Linked DNA regions of Homo sapiens: region 2 is linked to region 1. Evidence: fine-mapped expression QTL. A gene starts in region 1. The other region holds a variant in brackets. All regions are shown on one strand. Distances are between the middles of the regions.

Region 1 (11,087 bases):
GATCTCATTTTACAAATGAAAACACTGGGGTTTGGCCGGGCGCAGTAGCTCATGCCTGTAATCCCAGCACTTTGGGAGGCCTAGGCGGGTGGATCACCTGAGGTCAGGCATTCCAGACCAGCCTGGCCAACATGGCAAAACCCCATCTCTACTAAAAATACAAAAATTAGCCAGGCGTGGTGGTGGGAACCTATAATCCCAGCTACTCAGGAGGCTAAGGCAGAAAAATTGCTTAAACCCAGGAGATGGAGGTTGCAGTGAGCCAAGATCCTGCTATTGCACTCCAGCCTGGGCAACAGCAACAGAGTGAGACGCTGTCTCAAAAAAAAGGCCAGGGGCAATGGCTTATGCGTGTAATCCCAGTGCTTTGGGAGGCCAAGGTGGGCGGATCACGAGGTCAAGAGATCGAGACCATCCTGGCCAACATGGTGAAACCCCGTCTCTACTAAAAATACAAAATTAGCTTGGCGTGGTGGCACACGCCTGTAGTCCTAGCTACTTGGAGGCTGAGGCAGGAGAATCACTTGAACCCAGGAGGCAGAGGTTGCAGTAAGTCGAGATCACGCCACTGCACTCCAGCCTGGCAACAGACTGACTCCATGTCAAAAAAAAAAAAAAAAAAAAAGGCCAGGTGCAGTGGATCATGCCTGTAGTCCCAGCACTCTGAGAGGCCAAGGCGGGTGGATCACCTGAGATCAGGAGTTCGAGATCATCCTGGCCAACATGGTGAAACCCTGTCTATACTAAAAATACAAAAAATTAGCCGGGCCTGGTGGCAGGCACCTGTAATCTCAGCTACTTGGGAAGCTGAGGAAGGAGAATAGCTTGAACCCATGAGGCGGAAATTGGAGTGAGCCAAGATCATGCCATTGCAATCCAGCCTGGGCAACAAGAACAAAACTCCGTCTCAAAAAAAAAAAAAAAAAAAAAATTGTGCATTTTTCTCCATGTAATGTTATCATATATATGTGTGTGCATGTATATATTTATAGGTCTATAAATATGTATGTATCTATGTATGTATGTATTTAAACACACGAAAAGGATGGCCACATGTTTGTTTTTTTTTGAGACGGAGTCTCGCTTTGTTGCCCAGGCTGGAGTGCAGTGGCACGATCTCGGCTCACTGCAAGCTCCGCCTCCTGGGTTCACGCCATTCTCCTGCCTCAGCCTCCCAAGTAGCTGGGACTACAGGTGACTGCCACCACGCCCAGCTAATTTTTTTGTATGTTTAGTAGAGACGGAGTTTCACTGTGTTAGCTAGGATGGTCTTGATCTCCTGACCTCGTGATCTGCCCGCCTCGGCCTCCCAAAGTGCTGGGATTAGAGGCGTGAGCCACCATGCCTGGCCAAGGATGGTCACATGTTAACACTTTAGTTGGTAGACTGGCCTGAGGCCCAAGGAGTCCCAGGGTAAGGGCGGGAGAGGGATTCGGAGTTCAAGGCAGTGGCTGTTTGCCAACTGGAACAGATTATACAACCAACAAGACCACAGAGGTTCAGTTTAGCCTGCTGAAGCATCCCAGCTTCAGGAGATCCTCCTGGCCGCCGGCTCCCACCCCCTTTTTTTTTTTTTTTTTTGAAACGGAGTCTTGCTCTGTCACCCAGGCTGGAGTGCAGTGGCGCAATCTTGGCTCACTGCAATCTCTGCCTCCTGGATTCAAGTGATTCTTCTGCCTCAGCCTCCCAGGTAGCTGTGATTACAGGTGCCTGCCACCACACCCGGCTAATTTTTGTATTTTTAGTAGAGATGGGGTTTCACTATATTGGCCAGGCTGGTCTTGAACTCCTGACTTCGTGATCTGTCTGCCTTGGCTTCCCAAAGTGCTGGGATTACAGGCGTGAGCCACCGCACCTGGCCTGCCACCCCCTTATTTAACTGCAACACCCCCACATCACTCTTCTCTACCCGATTTATCATTCACCATAGCATGTGTCACCATCAATATCAGATGACACTATAGAATGTCACCATACCCTATATTTTGCTCATCTGTTTTATTGCCTTCTGTTTTGCTCATCTGTTTTATTGCCTTCTCCCCCAACTCGAATGAGAACTCTATAAAAGCAGGATTCTGTCTTTATTATTTATTTATTTATTTATTTATTTATTTATTTATTTTTTATTTTATTTTATTTTTTTTTGAGACGGAGTCTCGCTCTGTCGCCCAGGCTGGAGTGCAGTGGCGCCATCTTGGCTCACTGCAAGCTCCGCCTCCCGGATTCACGCCATTCTCCTGCCTCAGCCTCCTGAGTAATTGGAACTACAGGCACCCACTACCACACCAGGCTAATTTGTGTGTGTGTGTATTTTTAGTAGAAACGGGGTTTCACCGTGTTAGCCAGAAGGGTCTCGATCTCCTGACCTCATGATCCGTCCGTCTCAGCCTCCCAAAGTGTTGGGATTACAGGCATGAGCCACCGTGCCCGACCTGTCTTTATTTTTTTAATAGAGATGGGGTCTCCCTATGTTGTCCAGGCTGGTGTCCAAGTCCTGGGCTCAAGTGATCCTCCTGCCTCAGCCTCCCAAAGTGCTGGGATTAAAGCCGTGAGCCCGCAGTGCCCAGGCGTGATTCTGTCTGTTGATATCTGCTGTGTTCTCCATGCTAAAGAGGGCCAGGCCCTTACCGGATGCCCCATAAATATATGGTGAATGAATGAAGAACAATATCAGAAGCTAACACTCAGACCTCGCCATGGGCCAGGACATAGAAGAATTAATTTAGTCTTCAAGGCTATCCTGTGAGGGAGGTGCTGTCAACACCCATGTTTTCCACGAGGGGAAACTGCGACTCCAAGAGAGGTGCTTGCCCAAGATGACACAGCTACTAAGCGGTGGAGTCAGGATTCAAACTCAATCATGACCCCACAGGTGTTCCAGACCCCAGTTCACACACAGAGGATGTGACAAGCAGGGAGTCCCTGTATGGAGACAGTGCAAGAGTTCTAGAACCAGAAACCCTGGGACAGACATGGGTGCTGGTTACACATTGGGCATGCGCATTCCAGAACAGGGACAGAGCAGGAGTTTGGGCCGGGCGCGGTGGCTCATTCCTGTAACCCAAGCGCTTTGGGAGGCAGATCACTTGAGGTCAGGAGATCGAGATTAGCCTGGCCAACATGTTGAAACCCCGTCTCTACTAAAAATACAAAAATTAGCTGGGCGTATAATCCATGCCTGTAATCCCAGCTACTCGGGAGGCTGAGGCAGGAGAATCGCTTGAACCTGGGAGGTGGTTGCAGTGAGCCAAGATCACCCCACTGCATTCCAGTCTGGGCAACAGAGTGAGACTCTGTCTCATAAATAAATAAATAAATAAGCCAGGCATGGTGGCGTGCGCCAATAATCCCGGCTACCTGGGAGGCTGAGGCAGGGAATTGCTTGAACCCAGGAGGCGGAGGTTGCAGTGAGCTGAGATCCCGCCACTGCACTCCAGCCTGGGCGACAGAGTGAGACTGTGTCTCAGAAACAACAACTACAAAAGAAGCTGGAGATGAAAGGAAGAAATGATAATTTCACCATAAGGGAAGGATATGGAGTTCTAGAAACTGGAAGTGGGTAGTTTTTGGGGGGCCCAGTTCCCCTCTTGGGTGAAAGAAGTGAGCAGAGGTTCTCAGCAGGTGGGGCTGTGGATCCCAGAAGTGAGCCACGGAGAAATTGCTAAAGGGGTCCTGGGAGCAGACATCAAAATTCTAAGAAAAAGGGGTGATAGTCTCCCAGAAATGAACCAGCTGAAATGCCGGAAGTGAGCCTCAGACATCCCGGAAGCAGAAACCTGGATCCCCGGAAGGAAACCGACCAGCACCGCTCCTCACCCAGAAACGTGAGAGATGCCTTTTCCAGGAGCGCAGGCCAGAGAGGTAGATCTCCTGCAGCACAGGGGCACTGAGTTCCACTTCAGCCCCGTCCGAGGTCAGCGAGGGTCGGAAGCCCACGGCCTGGTGCGCTTCAGCCATGTCACGCTGGAGCCCTGAGTCGGGCAGAGTCATACTTCAGGACCCCAGCCCCTCCGCCCTCAGACTCAGGAGTCCAGGCCCCCAGCCCCTCCTCCTCCTTCATACCCAGGAGTCCAGGCCCCAGTCCCTCCTCTCTCAGATCCAGGAGTCCAGGCCCCCAGCCCCTCCTCCCTCAGACCCAGAAGCCCAGGCCCCAGCCCCTCCTCTCTCAGATCCAGGAGTCCAGGCCCCCAGCCCCTCCTCCCTCAGACCCAGAAGCCCAGGCCCCAGCCCCTCCTCCCTCAGACCCGGGATCTCACGCTTTCAGCTGCCTTTTTGCGCCGACCCAGGACTACATAACCTAGCTCATCCTTCTCTAAGCACCTGAAGGGTCTTGAGGGTCCTGGTTTGTAGACCCGGAGGTTTTGAGGGAAGGACGTCAATTCGGGACCTCTGGGAACGCATAGAGAGGCCAGAGGGATAGCTCGCGTTAACCCCTTTACCTGCTCTCCCAAGAACATGGTGCGGGGGCAGTGCCCTCCCCCCAGTACAGGATTCTCAAGATTCGGGGGTGGGTGGAGGAGGGAAACTGGTCCAGGCTGAGTTGCGGGGTCTTGAGAAAAGCATTAGTTTTAGACCCATATGAAACAAACACCTGTTAGACATTGACGCTGTCCACCCCATTGCCGCTTTTCATGCCAAGGCGAGGGGGATGGTGTCTATAAATTCATCCGCTCAGCGTCCCCTCCCCCCGCCCGTGCTGGAGGGAATGGGGAAGGAAGCACCCACTGCGCATGCCTCGCAGCCTGGGATGCTGAGGCTGTGAGCGGAGGCGAGCGTCGAGGACAAGTGATGGAGAGGCTTGCACGCCCAACCCTAGACACAGGACTCCAGGCCCCGCCGGAGCCCGAGCCCCTGGGGTCCAGTACTTACCACGTTGAATCAAGGGTCCGCTGATCGGATCCTGGGGTCCAAACCCGAGTCCACCCCCGCCCCCCGATTTTGAGCGCCGGCCCCAAATCTCCCGCTTGCATATGTCCAATCCCAGTGCAAGGAGTCCACCACCGGGTCGACGGGCCTTTGGAGTCCTGCCCACCCCGAGATCACCGTCACCCAGAAACCCCGATTCCTCTCTCTCGTGTCCCTAGCCGGGTATTCAGGTCCCGGGTTTTATCCCCGCCTCCTTCCAATCCCCGCGTTCTATCCCCGCCCCCTTCGAGCCACGGCGTCCAATCCCCTACATCCGTTCGATCCCCAGTCCTCCGTCTCCTTTTACCCGGCCAGATTCTCCACCATTTGGCCGCTCGCATTCTACGCAGCTGTTCGGAACCCGGGTTCCTGGGCTCCTCACTCAGCTCATTGTCTCTTAGTCTCCTGTCTCTTCGAGGAACAAGGCTCAGCTGGGAGGTCGCAGCCCACCCCAGGTGCATTATAACGTCAGGCGCGTAGGGTGCCGGAGCAAATCTCAGCCCTTTCACGCCAGGGAGGGAGGAGGGATGTTTGGGGGTCAGGACGGCCCGCCAAAACCACCCACGGAAGGTGCATGGATTGAGTTGGCAAGAAAGGCGCCACAGCGGGTTGGATTCAAGGTAGACAGTGGGACTTCCGTGAGGGAGAAGCAGCATGGCTAATAGAGAAAGGTATATTAGAGACCCAGCCTCGACTGAGAGGTCGAAATAGGTACAGAGAAGCAGAGACTGAAACACGGAACTCTTGTTTATTCGGCTCTGGGCGTCAGTGTTCTTCGCCCAGCCTGGTCCCGTGTGCTTCTAGGTCCAACCTAGTCGCAGCCCGGGGAGGGACTGGGGAAGACGGTTTCAGGGGCTGGAGTTAGGGGAGAAGAAATGTGGAGTAGAAGCTCCAACATACAGATAGGCAAACTGAAGCCGAGGAGGGGACGAGCCGTGCCCGAGGTCACCCAGCGAGCTGGGCACTGCGCTAGCCCCCTCGCTGCAGGCCGGAATCCTGGGAACCGAGCCGGGCTTCCGCCTCGCGCCACCGGCGGCGCCCATAGCTGTAGGGGTCCTGGGGCTCGTGGCTGGCCTTCCCCGAGGGCTCCTTGGTGGAGACAGCGAATCCAGTATATGATCTCCGCCAGGCGGTGGGTCCGGCATACGCCCAGGTAGCAGACGTGCCCGCGGTGCTGGGGGACCTGGTGCTGGCCTCGCCTGGAGAGGGAGCGTGGGAGAAAACCGGGTTCAAACCGAATTGAGAGATGGAGCGTGATGGAGGTGGGCACCCAAGCACTCCAAGACCAGCGGGGAGGCTTACAGATCACCTGCCCGTTCCGCGGCCGGGAGAGGGCGCTCGCCCTTTACGGTCTCCCTCCCGCCCTGTCCCTGCTGCCACCCGGGTTTCTCACCTGGCTGCAGTGTCCAGGTCCCCTTGGGCGGAGAAGGCGAGGAGCAACAGCAGGATGAGGATGTGGATAGTCATCGTGGGCAGGGCGGGTCAGGATCCGTGGCCCGTAGTTGCGGCCACCCCGCCCCGTTCCCGCACCGGGCTGATCGCCTCTGGGTGCAGCTCTGGAGCCAGGTACCAGGGCCAGTCCCCACTTCCCAGGCGGGGAACACTGAGGCCAAAAGTCTGTGGGAAGAGGCCGCACCACACCAGAGGGGCAGGATTCAAACCCGGGTCCCCGCTTCCCGCACCGCGGCTCCAGAGACCTCACTGGGTGTGTGGGGTCACACCAGCTGCTGTCTATCCCCCTAGGAGGTCTGTGGAGACTCGCCCCCTTCAAAGCGTGGGGAAATGGGGCGGGGCCAATGACACCCGCAGGTAGCTAAGCAGCGGGATTCCAAGAAAAGGGGTGGCGGCGGGGAAGCGCTGGCTCTGGTTGTAGATGCGACCTCACCCTCACCCTGTCGGGAAGCCGGTTAGTAGACAGTTGGGACCCTGGAACCTCGGGGGCCAGGCAATGCAGGGCAAGTGCACATGCGGCCCCCTGGAGGGCGTGGAGCGAGGGAGACCCCAAACACACTGAGGAGCGCCCCTCCGGAAGAGAAAAGGCCGAGGTGTCAGGCACTCGCCGGTGAGGGCTCCAGTTGCACTGAAGCAGGTGTAGCCAGGGCTGTTCAACGAGGAGGGTGTCCTGGGTCAACCAGGTCGAGTGCACAGTATTGTGGGGGACCCAGGACCCCGTGGCCAGGCCCTGAGGGTGGAAGGGTGGGTGCAGACGCCATGTCTGCAGCAGAGGCAGAGGGACCTCGTCTTCACCTCTGTAAGATGGGTAGGCCCTGCCACCTTACAGCTGCAACTCCCACTGACCTCCATGGAGGGCAAGTCCCCAGCCCTAAGCCCCAAGCCATTCTAGGGGAGGAAGCAGGGCCACTCCCCCATGAGAAATTCTATCCTTGCAAACATACACCCCCAACCCACTCAGTGTCCCCAGCTGCAGAGGGCTGGGCACAGTTGGGCCTTGAAGGGACCCGAACAGGAAAAAACAGCCAGAGAGGAACAATGTCGAGTGTTGGGGGGAGGTGGGGAGACTGTTCTGGGAAACTTGAGGGCTGGCTGTGCTGGAAAGCCACCCCCATCCCCTACTAGGCAGGACACGGGTACCGCAGAGGGGAGGGGCGCAGACCCAGGAGAGGGATGAAAAGAGTTGGACAAAGACCCTGAGAGACAGCTGTGGAGGACAGGGACCCCGAGAAGGAACCAAGGAAGGGGAGCAAGAGGCCTAGAGACGGGGGACGGGAGACGCAGATCCACAGAATGGCAGCCACCAGCAGGTGCCAAGGCCGGTCCCCCCACTGCTGAGGCTGGCACTGCAGTACCTGCGAAAGGAACCCCAAACCTCCTTTGCCCCCAGGAAACAAAGCCAGACCCCAGCTGAGGATTTATTGGCGTAAATGCAACCATATAAAAACATAAGTTATGAAAAACACAGTCACGATGTGCCCTCCCCATCCCCCCAGCCCAGGCCCCTAAAACCCCCTTCTGCGGGAGGGAGGGAGAGGAAGGGGGAGCCCCGAAACCGCCTAGGAACGCTCAGCCCCTGGGCTCGTGCAGGGCGGGAGAGCCGGGCCTCAGCGCATCCGGTAGTCGGTGGAGCAGGACAGCTCGCACAGCTGGCCCTTGAAGTCCAGGTCGATGGTGAAGTCCAGGTCCCGCTGCAGGGAGAGGTGGGGCATGAGGGCGGAACCCACCAGGAGGTGGTGGCGGGGGGCGGGTGCAGGCAGGCTATGCGACGATGAGCCGGGCTCCAGCTTCCTGCCCATCTCCACGCTGCAGACCCCAACTGCTGGTCCCACCCTAGCAGCTGCCCTGACCCTGCCAAGGGACAGCACCACATGGACACCCCCAAGCCCACTAGACTCACTCAGGAGTAGAGCCCAGCTGCTGTCCCTTGCCCTTGGATTTCTCCATCAGGATGATTCCCATCAGCAATGCAGTGATTGCTTCTTTCATAAAAAAGAAAACCTCTCCCAAGCCCACTTCCTCCTCAGGCAAACGTTCCAGTGAAACACAATGGTCCAGCCTGCTGTCTCCACTTCCTCTCCTCCCCCCATACCCTCCAGCACATGAAGATGAGACAAAGTCACCAACGCCCGAGGACTCCTCCTCCCTCTCCAGTATCCGTTTCCCAGCTAGTGCCGTGGTCCCGGGGGCTGCATGAGTCTTTGTAGGGGGTGGTCCTGTGGCTGCAGGACATTTACCAGCCCCCTGGCCCCTACCTACCAGATGCCAGGACCACCCCTTCTCCGGAGTGACAACCACAAATGTTTCCACAGACGGTGGCAAACGTCCTGGGGGGGGGCGGGGAGCGGAGGGGGCAGTAAAACTGCCCAGTTGACAACTGCTGCTGTCACAGGCTCGTGGGTGTCCCAGGGTCCACATTCCATGACTACCCTGAGTGCCACCCACCCTCGCACCCATCGGCCGGGACCCACTTTTCCAACCCAGACCACTCCCGGCGACTCCAGGCTCCAAGCCTTCCATCCTCCTGCCTGCTCAGACCCACCACACTGGATCTCTGCCCAGACCCTGTCTCCGAGAAGCCCCCCCAGCTCCCCCGGAAGCCCCCTGATCTCAGGTGATGGCAGCTCCTGCCAAGTGCTCAGGAGGAAAAAGAAAGGGGAGCAGAAAACAAAAAGCTGCCTTTCTCCTCTCATGCCTCCCAGCTGGGCTAGAAAACCCCGTGCACTCTACTGGGGGCTGCCTCTTGCCCTGGAGCCCACCTACACCAACACCTGTCTGCCCTGCTCCCAGCCTGACAGAGGTCACCTCCAACTGGCATCACCATGTCACTGACCCCCTTGTCTAGAGTGGAAGCACCAGGAGGGCAGGGTTTCAGCCTGGGTCCCCAGGCCCATAACTTCCGGTGAATGCTCAAGCAATCCTGCTGTGTAGACAGGCATGGGGCTGAGGGGCTTGGGGACCCGGGAATAGGCAGAGGTGCTCGCCCCCGCCAGCTGCCCCCATCCCCCACCCCGGCTGCCCCCATCCCCTACCCCCGCTGCCACCATTCCTCCCCCACCACTCCCCCCCCAATCTACACTCCCCGCCCTAGCTGCCACCCTCCCACCCAGCTGCCCGGAGCCTCACGTTGTTCTTGGCGTTGGGCCGCATGCCGATGGTGCCGAAGATCTCCTCGCCCGTCTTCACGGTCAGGTAGTCCTCCATGTAGAACACCGTCTGCTTCCAGTGCGTGTACGGGGACTCGGGGCCTGGGGGCGCGGGCGGGTCAGCCGGCCTCGGCCTGCTGCCCCCCCCAACCCCACCCTTGCGTTCCCTCTGTCGGAATGCCCACCCCCATGACAGCTGATGGGACTGCTATCCGCGAGTCACCTCCCTGTCATTGAGCTTTGGAGACAGGGACCGTGTCAGCCTTTTGTGGATGAGGAAACTGAGGCACTGCACACTCAGGTCACTTGCCCAAGGCCACGTGACTGCTACATGGCAGAGCTCACACTGGAACACGCGTGTCCCCATGGTTCCTTCTGCCCGTTTCTGTCACCCCCTCCACTACGTGGGTGCGCCTCCGCCCTGGCTCGGGAACGGCCCCCAGCCCTGTGGGCCCCGCCTCACTGGTGGAGAAGCCGGTCCTCTTGTGGCAGCGTGTGAACTCGATGTTGAAGTAGGCCACCAGGGCGTGCACGTAGTCATTCCGCTTCACTTGCAGGCAGAACGGGGAGGTGAAGGTCAGGTCTTCCACCTTGACGGTATAGATGTCCACCTCCTGCAGGACATGAGAGGGCGAGCTCCGGGATGCGTCCCCACCTCGCTTCATCCCCTCCTCCCTCCCTTAAGCTCCCAGAGGGCCTGTGACCTCGCTGTCCCCTTCCTGCTAGCCCTCCCTCACTGGCACCCAGCCTCGGCTCCTCCTTCACTCTGCATCCTGCCTATCCGGCTCCCAATAAACCATGTGGGTTCGAGCCCAGATTCCTTGCTCCCTCCTCTCCAACACCCAAACCTGGCAGTGCCACCCTAACTCTGTCCAGACCTCCTAGAATGCAGGCGCCCCACTCCACTGTCTCCCCAACCCCTTGACAAGTCCAACAACATGATGGCTTCAAACGGCAACACAAATGCCAACCTAAACCCTGCGCCAGTTCCCCTGGCTCTCAGGAGGGTGGCCCGAGTGGGGTCCCTGCCCCTGTAGTCTCCTCTCCTCCCCCACTCAACAACTTACTCCTCCCCGACAGGATCCCCCGGTCAGCCACCCAGCTTCACCCGGCTCACACATCCCAGCTCAACAAATACTCATCGCCGTATTTTTTTTTTTTAAACAGGGTCTCAGAAGTAAAAAAAAACAAAAGGAAAAAACAAAACAAAACATTGTCACCAAAGCTGGAGTGCAGTGATGTGATCACAGCTCACTGCAGCCTTGAACTCCCAGGCCCAAGTGATCCTCCCGAGTAGCTGGGACCTCAGGCACATCTCGGAGCCCAGCCTGGCCCCGTGCTCTTCTGCAGTGGCCCGCGTGCATGTGCATCCGCTCATCGCCCTGGGGTCCTGCCTTTCCGTGCATGGGCTGTGGGCTTTAGCTGCCAGCTTTGGGTGTTTCCTCCGCCAGAAGCCAAGTGCCAAGCATGGTTCTCACACAGCAGCGCTCACAAAGATATTTAAAGGACGAAGTGTCTTTCCTGGGCCTCTAGCACCACCTCTGGCTGGCAGATCAGGCTCTGAGACCTCAGGCCAACATTCTG
Region 2 (11,621 bases), 35 kb after region 1:
GCTACTCGGGAGGCTGAGGCAGGAGAATTGCTTGAACCCAGGAGGCGGAGATTGCAGTGAGCTGAGATCGCACCACTGCACTCTAGCCTGGTGACAGAGTAAGACTCCATCTCGAACAACAAAAAAAAAAGAACTCATGATTAGGACTGAATTCAGACGCTGGCTGCCCTTGGCCCGCTGTATAACCGAGGCAAAGGACTTTGCCCTGAGCCCGTGGAATCCAAGGATGGTCTCCTCTCTCTACCTGCCTGCCAGCGCTGGGGTGAGACACAGGCCCAGTACACAGAGCCTGCTCAGGGAATTAGCTGCCACTGTCATCATCATCGTAACTAATGATGGTGAACAGACCAATAGCAGGAAAGCTACATCCCTTAGGGTTTCGCTGTGCAGTGGCACTTTCTGCCATGATGGAAATGACAGTCACCTGCACTGTCCGGTGCAGCAGCCACTAGCCACAGGGGCCAAGCACTCAGGTGAGGCGAGTGCAACCAGGACGTGATTCGTTTTAATTGGTTACAATTTAAACTGAAATAACCTTACATGACTAATGGCTGCAATTGGACAATGCAGCCTCAGACAGGACTGAATGCCAACCAGCTTCTCCAGATTCACTGAGCATCCTTGGGAGCATGGGCCCCCTACTCTGGGCCTGTTATGAATGCTGAGGCTTGGGGGCTTGGGGGTGTGGCCTTCCAACAACCCCACCCTGATGGGAGGGAGGGAGGGAGGGAAGGAGGGGACTTTCCCCAAACAAGCAGTCCCCTGGTCGAGGCAGCAGAGGGCCTTAGGTCAGGGGAGGTGGTGGGGGTTATCATTCAAGTTTACGGGGAAGGGTGGGTAGAGGGTCCTCTTCTCATCCCTGACTAGGCTCCTGGGCCCCCAGATCTGATTACCTTCACGGAAGGAAGCGGACGCTCACCACGCTATGCCCTCTGGTTCTGTGTGGGGGAGTCATGGCCCCAGGACCAGCCGTGGACCAAGAGGCTCGTGATGGTCAAGGTGCCTGCAGACCTGAGTCCCTGGGGCTGAAAGGGGTGGCCTTACAGAGGGAAGAGGTTGCTCCCAGGAACTCCAACTCCCAGAGGGCCCTCTAAAAAACTGCAACTTCCAAGATCTCTGCAATAACCAGTTTTTCATCCCCGGGAGCTCCTTCCCATGGCCTCACCTGCAGAACCTGTTTTGAACTCTCTAAACCAGTGGCCCCCAAACTATTTGGCACCAGGGACCAGTCTCATGGAAGATAATATTTCCACGGACAGGGAGGTGTGGTTTCGGGATGAAACTGCTCCACTGCAGATCATCAGGCATTAGATTCTCTTAAGGAGCAGCCGATCCCTCACGTGCGCAGTTCGATAGAGTTTGTGCTCCTCTGAGAATCTAATGCTGCCGCTGATCTCACAGAAGGCAGAGCTCAGGCAGTAATATTCCCCCACCCGCTGCTCACATCCTGCTGTGCAACCTGGTCCCTAACAAGCCGTAGGGGGGTTGGGGACCCCTGCTCTAAACCATGTAGAAGCTGGTGGACTCAAGTTTTAGCTGCCATTGTGAGGCCATGGCTGTGGCTCCCAGGAGTCAAGATCACAGACTGCTCAGCCCTGACGTGTGTGTGTGTGTGTGTTTGTGTGTGTGTGTAAAACTACAACTCCCAGCAGCCCTAGGCCTATGGTTCAGTTACAGCAGGGGGTGTGTGTGTGTGTGTGTGTGTGTGTGTGTGTGTGTGTGTGTGTAAAACTACAACTCCCAGCAGCCCTAGGCCTATGGTTCATCCTAGGTTACAGCAGGGGCTGCAGGGAGTTGTAGTCCTCCAAGCCCTGACTCCTACCTTGGTGGACAGTGGCTGGGTGTTTTCCCTGACTCCTGTCCCCACTTCCCCTGCAGGTTGTGCCCACGTGCCTCAGGGCCTTGGTAGAAATGGCCCGGGTAGGGGGTGCCTCCTCCCTGGAGAATACTGTGGACCTGCACATTTCCAACAGCCACCCACTCTCCCTCACCTCCGACCAGTACAAGGCCTACCTGCAGGACTTGGTGGAGGGCATGGATTTCCAGGGCCCTGGGGAGAGCTGAGCCCTCGCTCCTCATGGTGTGCCTCCAACCCCCCTGTTCCCCACCACCTCAACCAATAAACTGGTTCCTGCTATGATCACTTGTGCGTGTCTGGTGTTGGGTGCCCTCTGACCCAATATGGTTGTTATTCCCGCTCAGGGTCTCAGTTTACCCATCTGTGCAGCTATATACAACTCAGGTGCTCAATGCATGAAGACCAAGCACTGCAGGGGGCAGCTGACACCTCCTCACTTCTGCCCAGGGACCTGGTGGGTGATGGCTGTCCCCGTGTTGTAGACCAAGACACAGGCTGGGAGAGGCGCAAAGGTCACAGAGTAGGAAACACAAAGACTAGCCAGAACCCAGGCCCCCTGCCTTGCCTATGAACAGTTTGGGCAAGTGGTCCTTCTCCTTCCAGGCCTCAGGCTCCCCTCCACGTGGGGCTGGAGGGGTCTTGGTAAAGGGGCTCTGCGGCCACCCTGGAGCCTGCAAAGCCTGCCTGCCTGGTGACCCTGGGCACTGTCACCTCTCCTGGTTGGGCCGCAGTTCTGGGTGATGAAACTGGCAGAAGCCAGCGCAGCCCTGACTCACCCTTCGGCCCTTGCTGCTCTGTGCCTCAGTTTCCCTCTCAGGACAGTTGATGAGATCACCCCAGCTTCACGGGGCTGCTGAAAAGAGAAGCCAACTCAATGGGGAACACAGATCCTGCTCTGGGAGCAATTCCAAGGCAGGCACATGGCACCCAGGAGCCGAGCTGGGAAGATGCTGATCAGGTGGGGTCCGGCCCCTGCCTCCCTGTGAGCAGCTCGCTCCCAGCCAGAGACTGTGCTAAGTGCTCCACCTGTGTCTTGTTCAATCATCACAACACCCACTACACAGATAAGAAAACTGAGGCCCAGGGGAGGCAGCTGCCCCAAGTCACAGTCTGGTCTCTGTCTCCCATCCTCAGCCTCCTGGGGGTCCCTCCCCAACCCTCTGGCAAATTTGTCTCCGAAAACAAAGGGTTAGAACCATGGGGCTCAGGGGTAATGTTTCATGAAATCTTTAATGAAATTGGGGAGAGGGGCACAAACAGAAGGGAGGGGCACTGGGGACAGGCTTGGGGGCAAGGGAGGTGGACACGGGGCAGGGCAGGGCAGGGGGCTCTCCTCTTCCCTGCAGCAACCCTCCCCCAGTCATCCCACTGACGGGGGAGGGAGGTGGGGAGGTGGAGCCATAAATACGTCCAGAGTTTCAAAGAGGTGAGGGGCGAAGAGCTGGCCAGGGCTCTCAGAGAGGGGGCAGGGGCAGGCCCGGGCCACCCTTGTCTGGGGGCCCTGGCTCCTTGGGCGGCCGTGGGGGCCCTGGGGGGTCCCCTGGCTTGCGACCGTGCTTGCGGAAGTAGCGGTAGCGCTGGACGTAGGCCCGCACCAGGTTGCTCACCTTCACTGGGTTGATTTCCCCACTTTTGCTGTGGCAGATCTGGGGGGCCGGGGACAGTTGGAGTCACCACCAGGCTCCCGGGGCCCCATCCACCCAGGACTGTTGGGCGCAGCTTGGAACTGCGGTAGGAGGAGCTTCCCCAATAACCAGGCCAAAGTCCCTCTGTCCCCCTAGACGATGGGTGCCCCAGGGCCAGCGGAACAGGCCCAGGTGGCCTTGAGAAAATCCTGTCACCCTCCTCACCTCCCAGACTGACCTCCTCCCCGTCTCCCATCCGCGTCCATCTGTCTGCACACATCTGTCCCTCCAGCTCGTTCTCTCCCCGGCCTGTGTCTGCCCCTCTCTCCGGGTGCCCACCTTGTGGACGGCCTTCCTCAGGATGTCCTTGTACTCCTCCTTGGTGATGTCCTTCTTCTGATAGTATGGCTTGATGGCCAGCTTCACCTCCTCCACCGCCCGCTCCTGCGTGTGCAGCTTCTTCAGATACTGGTGGGGTGGCGACAGCGGGGGAAGACACAGCAAGGGCCAGTGAGTACCTGCGGAACCTCCACCTCCACTCGCCTCTGCTGCCAGCCTAACCTCTCTGGCCGTCCAGCTGCTCTCAGGCTGGAAGTCCTGCTGAGGGTCTGTCCCATGCGCCCTCTGCTGCAGGTGCCCGGGACCAAAGGCCAGGCCTGGGCCTCTGCATGTCACTGAACATCTCCTCCAGGCCGAACCCTGGGCTGCTCCAGGCCTGGCCGGGACCAGGACATGTGTGTCGCCTGCCCTCACAAAGTTCAGTCTGATGAGAAGACAGGCATTGGCCAAGAAATTGCAGCTGGTTTTGAATCAGACTCTAGAGGCGGGGCTGTAGAAAACTGCACAGGGCTTTTCACCGCGGGAGCGGGGAGGACTCAGTTTAGGTTTTTACAGTACTGCTCTGGTCACCCAGGGGATGGAGGGGGTGGCTAGGGGTGAGGGGCACTGGGGAGTGGGGGTGGGGACTGACCTTGAGCCCATTTGTATCAGAAGCCTGGTCTGCCACTCCCTGTCTCTGACCCCTGGGATGCTCAGCCAAACCTTTTTGTGGCTCCTTTTTTGTTTCTTTGTTTTTGAGACAGGGTCTCTCATTGTCATGCAGGCTGGAGTGCAGTGGCACAATCACTGCTCACTGTACCCCTGGTCTCCTGGGCTAAAGCGATCTTCCCACCTCAGCCTCCTGAATAGCTGGGACTAGATGTGCCACCCCCACGCCTGGCTAATTCTTGTACTTTTTGTGGCGACTAGGTCTCACTATGTTGCCCAAGCTGATCTTGAACTCCTGGGCTCAAGCGATTCACCCGCCTCGGCCTTGCGAAGTGTTGGAATTACAGGCATGAGCCACCGTGCCTGGCCACCTTTGTGGCTCATTTGTAAAACGGGGACAGCACCTATGGGCAGTACTACAGCGACACACATGGAGGACATGGCACAGGCTGGGTACAGAGCAAAGACTCAATCCAGGGGAGCTGTGCCTGTTCCAAGGGGGATGGCCATGGGATGAAAAGGGGAGGACGCAACAGGGACAGGGCAGAGAGCCTCCGAGGCAAGGCTCTTCCCGCCTGTGGCCAGCAAGCTAGGAGATCCCGCAGCCGCAGGCTCGGGGCAGCAGCTGCAGCCCTGGCCTCAGGCAGAATCCTTGCAAAAGCAGACAGGAAACCTCTAGCCAGAGAGCCACGTGGGACCAGAGAAGAACAGGCCTTCTGCAGGCACAAGGGACAGTCCCTTGGCACCACCCTTGGAGAAGCTGCCCTCCCAAGCCAGGTGACTATCAAAGTAGGGGCAGGTAAACTGAGTCCTGGGAAGGGCAGGGCACAATGGCTAGCCGACTCCAGGAGCAACATCAGTGACACTGTCTGACGAGCTACTGAGCTGTTAGGGAACTCTGTGGCCAGAAGAGACACAGGCTGCCCTGGAGGGACTTCTCAGGCTTGCCTGGCCCCACAGGATGTGGGTCTCTAGAGAGACGCTGCTCCCCAACACCCATCTCGGATGGGCAAAGCGGGGCAAAGGGCAGAGCACAGACCAGGGCAGAGCAAGGGCCACTGTAGACCAGGGGGTCCTCACCGTCCGAGTCCTGCAGCGCAAGGCACAAGCTACGGACAAGTGACCGACTAAACTGCAGCCCCGCCTCTGCGGCTCACACAGGATGTTTAATGGGGTTTATACAGCTTTATCTGGCACGGTACACAGCTGTGTAAGGGTGGCCAACGTCACCGTCTGGCTATGGGCTACTAGACTGTAAGAAAACACATCTAGGCTGGGTGCAGTGGCTCATGCCTATAATCCCAGCACTTTGGGAGGCTGAGGTGGGAGAATCACTTGAGCTCAGGAATTTGAGACCAGCCTGGGCAACATAGTGAGACCCCAACTCTACAAAAAATTAAGAAATGAGCTGGGCATGGTGGCGCGTGCCTGTAGTCCTAGCTACACAGGATGCTGACGTAGGAGGATCCCTTGAGCCCGAGAGATCAAGGCTGAGGCTACAGTGAGCTGTGACTGTGCCACTGCATGCCAGCTTGGGTGACAAAGCGAGACCCTGTCTCAAAAACCAACCAACCAAGGCCGGGCACGGTGGCTCACACCTGTAATCCCTGCACTTTGGGAGGCCGAGGCTGGCAGATCACCTGAGGTCAGGAGTCAAGACCAGCCTGGCCAACGTGGTGAAATGCCGTCTCTACTAAAAATACAAAAATTAGCTGGGTGTGGTGG[C/T]GGGTGCCTGTCATCCCAGCTACTCGGGAGGCTGAGGTAGGAGAATCACTTGAACCCTGGAGGCGGAGGCTGCAGTGAGCCGAGATGGCACCATTGCACTCCAGACCAGGTGACAGAGCAAGACTCCATCTCAAAGAAAAACAAAAACAAAAACCCACATCTAGACCTGACCAAGAGAGAAACAGCTCCAGAGCCCAGGAGTAGGAGCCGGCCAGAGCAGCTGAGTAAGAACCTACATTACTGTCTGCCTGGCACCCATTCTCCCCTGCTTCATCTACAAACAGGTTCTTGAGTTTTCATTCGGAAACCACCCTCCCCCACTCACAGAGACGGAGACAGCGCGAGCAACAGATAATCAAGGGGTGGGCTGCAGCGCGGGGCATCTCTTCCAGGGTGTGTATATGTGGTGTGTACGCACACAGCCCCACACACGCACAGACGCGATTTTCCTTTGGACACGCCTAACGCATTTCCTGCTCACCCATTCCAGCAAAGTGGAGTTCCTTATGGTTCCATGACTTTGGTCTCTACGGCCCTGTCTCCCTGCCTCAGTCTCCCTTTCTCCTTGGGCCCCCGCGTCTCAGTTCCTGTCCATATTCTCTACAGAACTGTCAGCACCGCCCCACCTCTCCCCAGGCCAGCTCACCTTATCTGTGTCCCCACGGCCCTCAGAGCTGCTGCTGCCCTCTCTCTTGTCAGACGTGGCAGCCAGCCCGGTGGGGGTGGGGGGGGTCGAACCGCAGCCCCCCAGAGGGAGGCTGCCAGGAAGCAGGTAGCTGGAGGGGCCAGGGGGCAGACCCAAAGAGGTGGGCACAGGAGCTGGGGTCATCCCCAGACTTGAGGGTGGCTTTCTGTGGCTGAGGATCTGTGGGACGAGGACAGAGGGGTGATGAGTAAAGGGAGGTGGAGGGGAAGAGGGGACGTGCACCCCACTGTTCCCACGCTGACTTCCCCACAGCTGAGGCAACAGGCTCCTCTTCAGGCCGATACCTTGCCCCAGAGCTGCCAGGCCCGCGGTTCCTCTCCTAACCCGAGGCAATGGACAAAAGAAGGGGCGGCAGGGACTCTCCCCCAGGGGAGCCCACCTGGTTGGTGGCCTGGATCAGCTCCTGGGCCTTCGCTCGGCTCGCCAGGTTGGCTTCTTCCATCTTGAAGAGAAGTGCAGTCACTGCAGGAGGCAGAGAGGTGACAACATGAAGATGGGAGAGGTGACAGGACAGGAGCTGGTGAACCTCACCTGGACACCTGCTGTCATCTCCTGCCCTTGGCCCCAGAACAGCCACAAAGCCTCACGCTCAGAACTGGGAAAAGGGGGCCTTGGCCAATGAGAGAACAGCCCATACCACGAATGTTCTTGGGACTCCAGGTGTGTGGGTGCGGGGTTGGCCAGGGTCATGCAGTGATGAGACAGTGGCAGGAGTGAGATTCTGCCTCCTGACCCGCTGTGGCCAGTCCCAACCTCTCTCCCCACCTCTGCAGTCTGGTAGAGGCAACCGCCATCCGTAAGGAATACGATGCCCTGCTCAAGCCATTCTTTCTGGTCCCTCTCTCCTACTCCCCGTCTAGGGGAATCCCAGAACCCAGCCCACCACTCCAGTCTGTGCTGGCCACCACCTGCTCTCACCGGCCCCTCTCTCCCAGTACACCCAGGCACCTAGAGCCTGGCTGGCCTTTACTCACCCCCACCCTCCCAGTCTATGTCCCTATAAACCTCTCCCTGCCAGGGCACCCCACTGCCTCTAAGTCTGTACCCTCCAGTCCCCATCCTGTCTCACCTGCCCCAGCACCACCCTCCCCCAGGGGACACTCACAGGCCAGGACGCCGCTGGTGGTGCAGTCCACACCAGCTGGCAGATTCCAGGGCATGGGCGGGGGCAACGTGGGCAGCTGGGAGACACGGGAAGCTGGCCCGTCCTCCGCCCCCGAGTCACCGGCTGTGGACCCCGCGCTGGGGGCAGTGCTTGGGGCGGCTGCAGCAGTGCTGGTGGCCGTGGTGGTAGCAGGCTGCTGCTCCTCCTCCTCTTCCTCTTCCTCCTCCTCTTCTTCTTCCTCCTCCTCCTCCTCCGCCCCACCTCGGACCCCAGCCTCCTCAGTGGCCTCCTCGGGCAGGAAGGAGACCTCAGGTGTCTTGCAGCTGCTGTCCACGGTCTGCGAGTCCGGAGTGAGGGCAGGGGGTGGTGGGGCTGCCTTGGGGGGCGGGGTGCTAGGAACCTTGGCTGCCCGCTCCTCCCCGGACCAGGAAGTCTCCTCCGCCCCCTTGGTGCCTGCCGCCTGGCTGCAGCTATCCGCCTTGGACTTCTTCAGCGACACCTGGCCACCACTGCCCCCGCTGCCACCTCCACTGCGGACCTTTTTCCTGGTCTTGGATGGCTTGGTCTTTCCCTTGGTCCCCTTGGTTTTCTTGGCCCCTGCCTTGGCCTTGACCTTGGTCTTTTTGGGCTTGGTGCTGCCCGGAGCTGCTTTGGCCATCTCAGTGGGGGCCCGCTCGTCAGGTTTGAGGAAGGGGGAGCGACTCTCGCGGTCACGGCTGAATTTGACGCCAATGGAGCCCAGGCCGGCTGACGCGGCATCCTTGGCCGGGGTGGTGCTGCTGACACCCTCGCGGATCAGCACCGCCACCTTGGACTGCAGCTTCACCTTCCGGGAAGAACAGGAGGACGACGAGGATGAAGAGCCTGAGCCGCTGCTGACTGGTGGCTTTGGCGGGGGCCCTGAGGAAGGCGCCGACTCCTTGGGGGGCCGGGCCTTCTTGGATGACCTGTCCCTGTCCCTATCTCTGTCCCTGTCCCGATCCCGGTCACCCCCGTCCAGCGCCTTCCGACGAGACCCCTTCTCCCGGGAAGAGGAGGAGGAGGAGGCGGCCCCCGAGCGGCGCCGATCCTTCTGGCTGCTCTTGCCGCCCCGCTCCTCGCCGCTCAGTCCCTCGGAGTCGTACAGGACCTCCCGCTTAGGTGAGGAGGCCGGAGCAGGAGAGGGTCCTCGGGGGTCGGACTTGTCAAGCCGGCCCACCGTGATGGTCCGCTTGATGGCGAAGAGGTCGTGGTCCGTGAGGTCCTGGATGGAGGGTGGCACGGCCCCCCGGCGGCGGCTGTCGCGGTCACCACACGAGGTGGAGCCAGAGGGCGGCGGGGCGGGCGCCGGGGCCTTCTCGCTGCCATCCCCAGACCGCTTCTCACCCCGGGACCGCGACCGCTTCTTCTTCTTCTTGCTGCCGCCACCGTCCCGGTGTTTCCCGCGGTGCCGCTCGCGCCTCGAGGACGACGATGAGGAAGTGGCCGGGGGCGGGGAGGCGGAGCGCCGCCGCCGTCGCCGCTTCTCCCGGGACCGCGACCTGCGGCTGCCCCCGCGGCGGCGGTCGGTGCTGCGCGAGCGGCGGCGGGTGGAGCGGGAGCGGGAGCGGGAGCGGGAGCGGCGGCGGGCGGACGACGAGGCGTGGGAGCCGGGCTTGCGGTCCCGCGAGCGGTGCTTCTTGGAGTCCCAGGGCGAGGCCGGGGCGGGCGGCGCTGGCTGGGTGCCCGACGAGGACGAGGCGGCCTCCTTGGCCTCGCCGCTGCGCTTGCGTTCCCGCCTGGACTTCTTGCGCGTGGGCGGACCAGCAGCGGCGGCCGGGGCGGGCGCGGGCGCCGGGGAGGGCGAGCGCTGGCGGTAGCGCTCCCGCCGTTGGGTCAGGATCTTGCGGCGCAGGTCCAGGCCGCCCCAGCGCGAGTCGGCGGCGGGCGGCGCGGGAGCCGGCTCCCCTAGGTCCACCTGCAGGGCGCCCTCGCCGTCCGACTCCGCATGCAGGGACAAGAAGTCGTCCCCCTCGGGGGCCCGCGGAGCGGGAGGCTGAGGAAGGGGCTGGGCCGTGGGGGTGGCCGAGGCGGCCGGTGTAGGCCGGGCGGCCCGGCCGCCGGGGCGGAAGAGGGACAGCGCCAGCCTGGGCTCCTCCTCCGGCTGGACGATCTCCCCTTCCTCGATCTCCGAGTCGCCGGGCGGCAGCAGGGGCGGCGGGAGGGCGGCTCCACCAGCGGTCACCACCTCCACCGAGACCTTGCCTTCCCGACAAGCCTCTGCCTCGGTCCCCACCACGAAGACCCGCCGGCGCATGGCTCCATCAGCCCGGGTGGAGTCCACCTGGGGCGGCGTTCCAGGGGCGGGAGTCGGCTGTGTGGGCTGCGCGTCCGGGCGGGGGCTCTCGTCACCTGGGAAGTCCTGGCTCAGGCTGTTGTCATCGTAGATGCCCGCCAGGGTCTCCGAGATGCGGCTGATGCTCTGGGACAGGCCTTCCTCCTCCTCCTCGTCTTCCTCTTCCTCTTCTTCTTCCTCTTCCTCCTCCTCTTCCTCCTCAGGTGAGGGGGTCCCCGCTGATGAGCTGGGGTTGGAGCCGGTGGGCTCAAAAGGGTCGTACTTTTGCTCCGGAGCAGGCGGTGGAGAGTAGGCCTCGTCGGTGGGGTGGAAGGGGTCATAGATATCGAATCGGGGGGCAGGTGGGGCTGGGGGTGCAGGGGGCGGTGGGGGTGGGGGAGGGGAAGGGGAGGAAGATGAGGGAGAAGGGGAAGGGGAGGAGGATGCAGAGGAGGGGGCAGGGGGTGGGGCAGGGCCCCCGTCTCCCGTGCCCAAGGTGAGGTGACGGGCACAGGTGGGCCTAGAGGAGTTCGACTGTGGAGAAACTGCAAAGGAACAGGGAGAGAGAGGCGGTCAGGGCCTTTGCCTCCCTCCTGGTGCCTGCTTGCTGGCCCAGCCGTGGACACTCCCTGGGCCACCAGGTCCTGCCCAGGAAGCCCCAAGTGCTTCACAGGAGCCAGCCGTAGGATGCTCCCAACAACTGCACACCATGGTTCTTAACCCAAAGGTCACAGGAGGAAACTGAGGCAGAGGGCTGCAGTATCCTCCCCAAGGGCACACAGAGAGAAGGCAGCAGTCAGGGTGTAAACTCAGTCAGTGCGGCCCCGAACCTGCACTCCCATATCCTGAGACAGCACTGGCCTGACCCTGGGCAATGTACCCTGGCCTTGAAACTAGGAACTATCTTGACCAGTGCCGGCGACCCATCCCAGGAGGAGGTGGAGGCTGCAGTGAGCTATGACCACAACACCACACTCCATCCTGGGGGGAGAAGAAACAGGAAAACAGGCTGCAGGGGGAGAGCTGGGATTCAAACCTAAGTCCCCCTCCAAGACAAAAACAAGCTCTGGCCTGCTGCGCCAGCTGCCTCTCGTGGGAGTTTCTCCCGTTTGGTAGAGGGTGAGATTCCAGTGCAGAGCCAGGAAATGGCAGAGCTGGGGAGCCCAGGAAGGCTGGTCTTCACCCCAAGCTCTTCACTCTGTGCTGAGTCCCCACCCAAGGAATTACATCTGCTCAGGACTCAAAGACACCACTGACCAGTGACAGTGGCAATGACAAAGGTTTGCCTCTTCCTCCAAACCAGGCATGGTGCTTCGTATGTC

What was found. PIP is the estimated chance that this variant, and not a neighbour inherited with it, causes the effect.
Region 2: its variant is the best candidate, but not a certain one, in a credible set for the expression of ADM5 in whole blood (TOPMed, PIP 0.59).

The regions. Positions count from the first base shown.
Region 1 is chr19:49,685,123-49,696,209 of GRCh38, reverse strand. ADM5 (adrenomedullin 5 (putative)) reads right to left here and starts at 6,616. Exons shown (of 2, transcript NM_001101340.2): 1 at 6,299-6,616; 2 at 5,635-6,104. The coding sequence starts at 6,372. The coding sequence ends at 5,717. It overlaps PRMT1 (protein arginine methyltransferase 1), which reads right to left. Exons shown (of 11, transcript NM_001536.6): 9 at 9,967-10,117; 10 at 9,484-9,605; 11 at 7,763-8,048. The coding sequence ends at 7,965. It overlaps CPT1C (carnitine palmitoyltransferase 1C), which reads right to left and starts at 5,094. Exons shown (of 20, transcript NM_001199753.2): 1 at 4,870-5,094; 2 at 4,321-4,389; 3 at 3,817-3,971. The coding sequence starts at 3,957. RefSeq lists a silencer at 6,157-6,226 and enhancers at 7,535-8,275, 8,276-9,017.
Region 2 is chr19:49,650,091-49,661,711 of GRCh38, reverse strand. It overlaps SCAF1 (SR-related CTD associated factor 1), which reads right to left. Exons shown (of 11, transcript NM_021228.3): 7 at 8,007-10,844; 8 at 7,281-7,363; 9 at 6,842-7,060; 10 at 3,823-3,951; 11 at 3,070-3,504. The coding sequence ends at 3,313. IRF3 (interferon regulatory factor 3) reads left to right here. Exons shown (of 8, transcript NM_001571.6): 7 at 884-999; 8 at 1,879-2,140. The coding sequence ends at 2,064. Among named protein-coding and RNA genes, the nearest start is that of IRF3, 10 kb to the left of the region's middle. RefSeq lists enhancers at 2,925-3,628, 5,249-6,024. The variant C/T (reference allele first, on the strand shown) is at 6,196.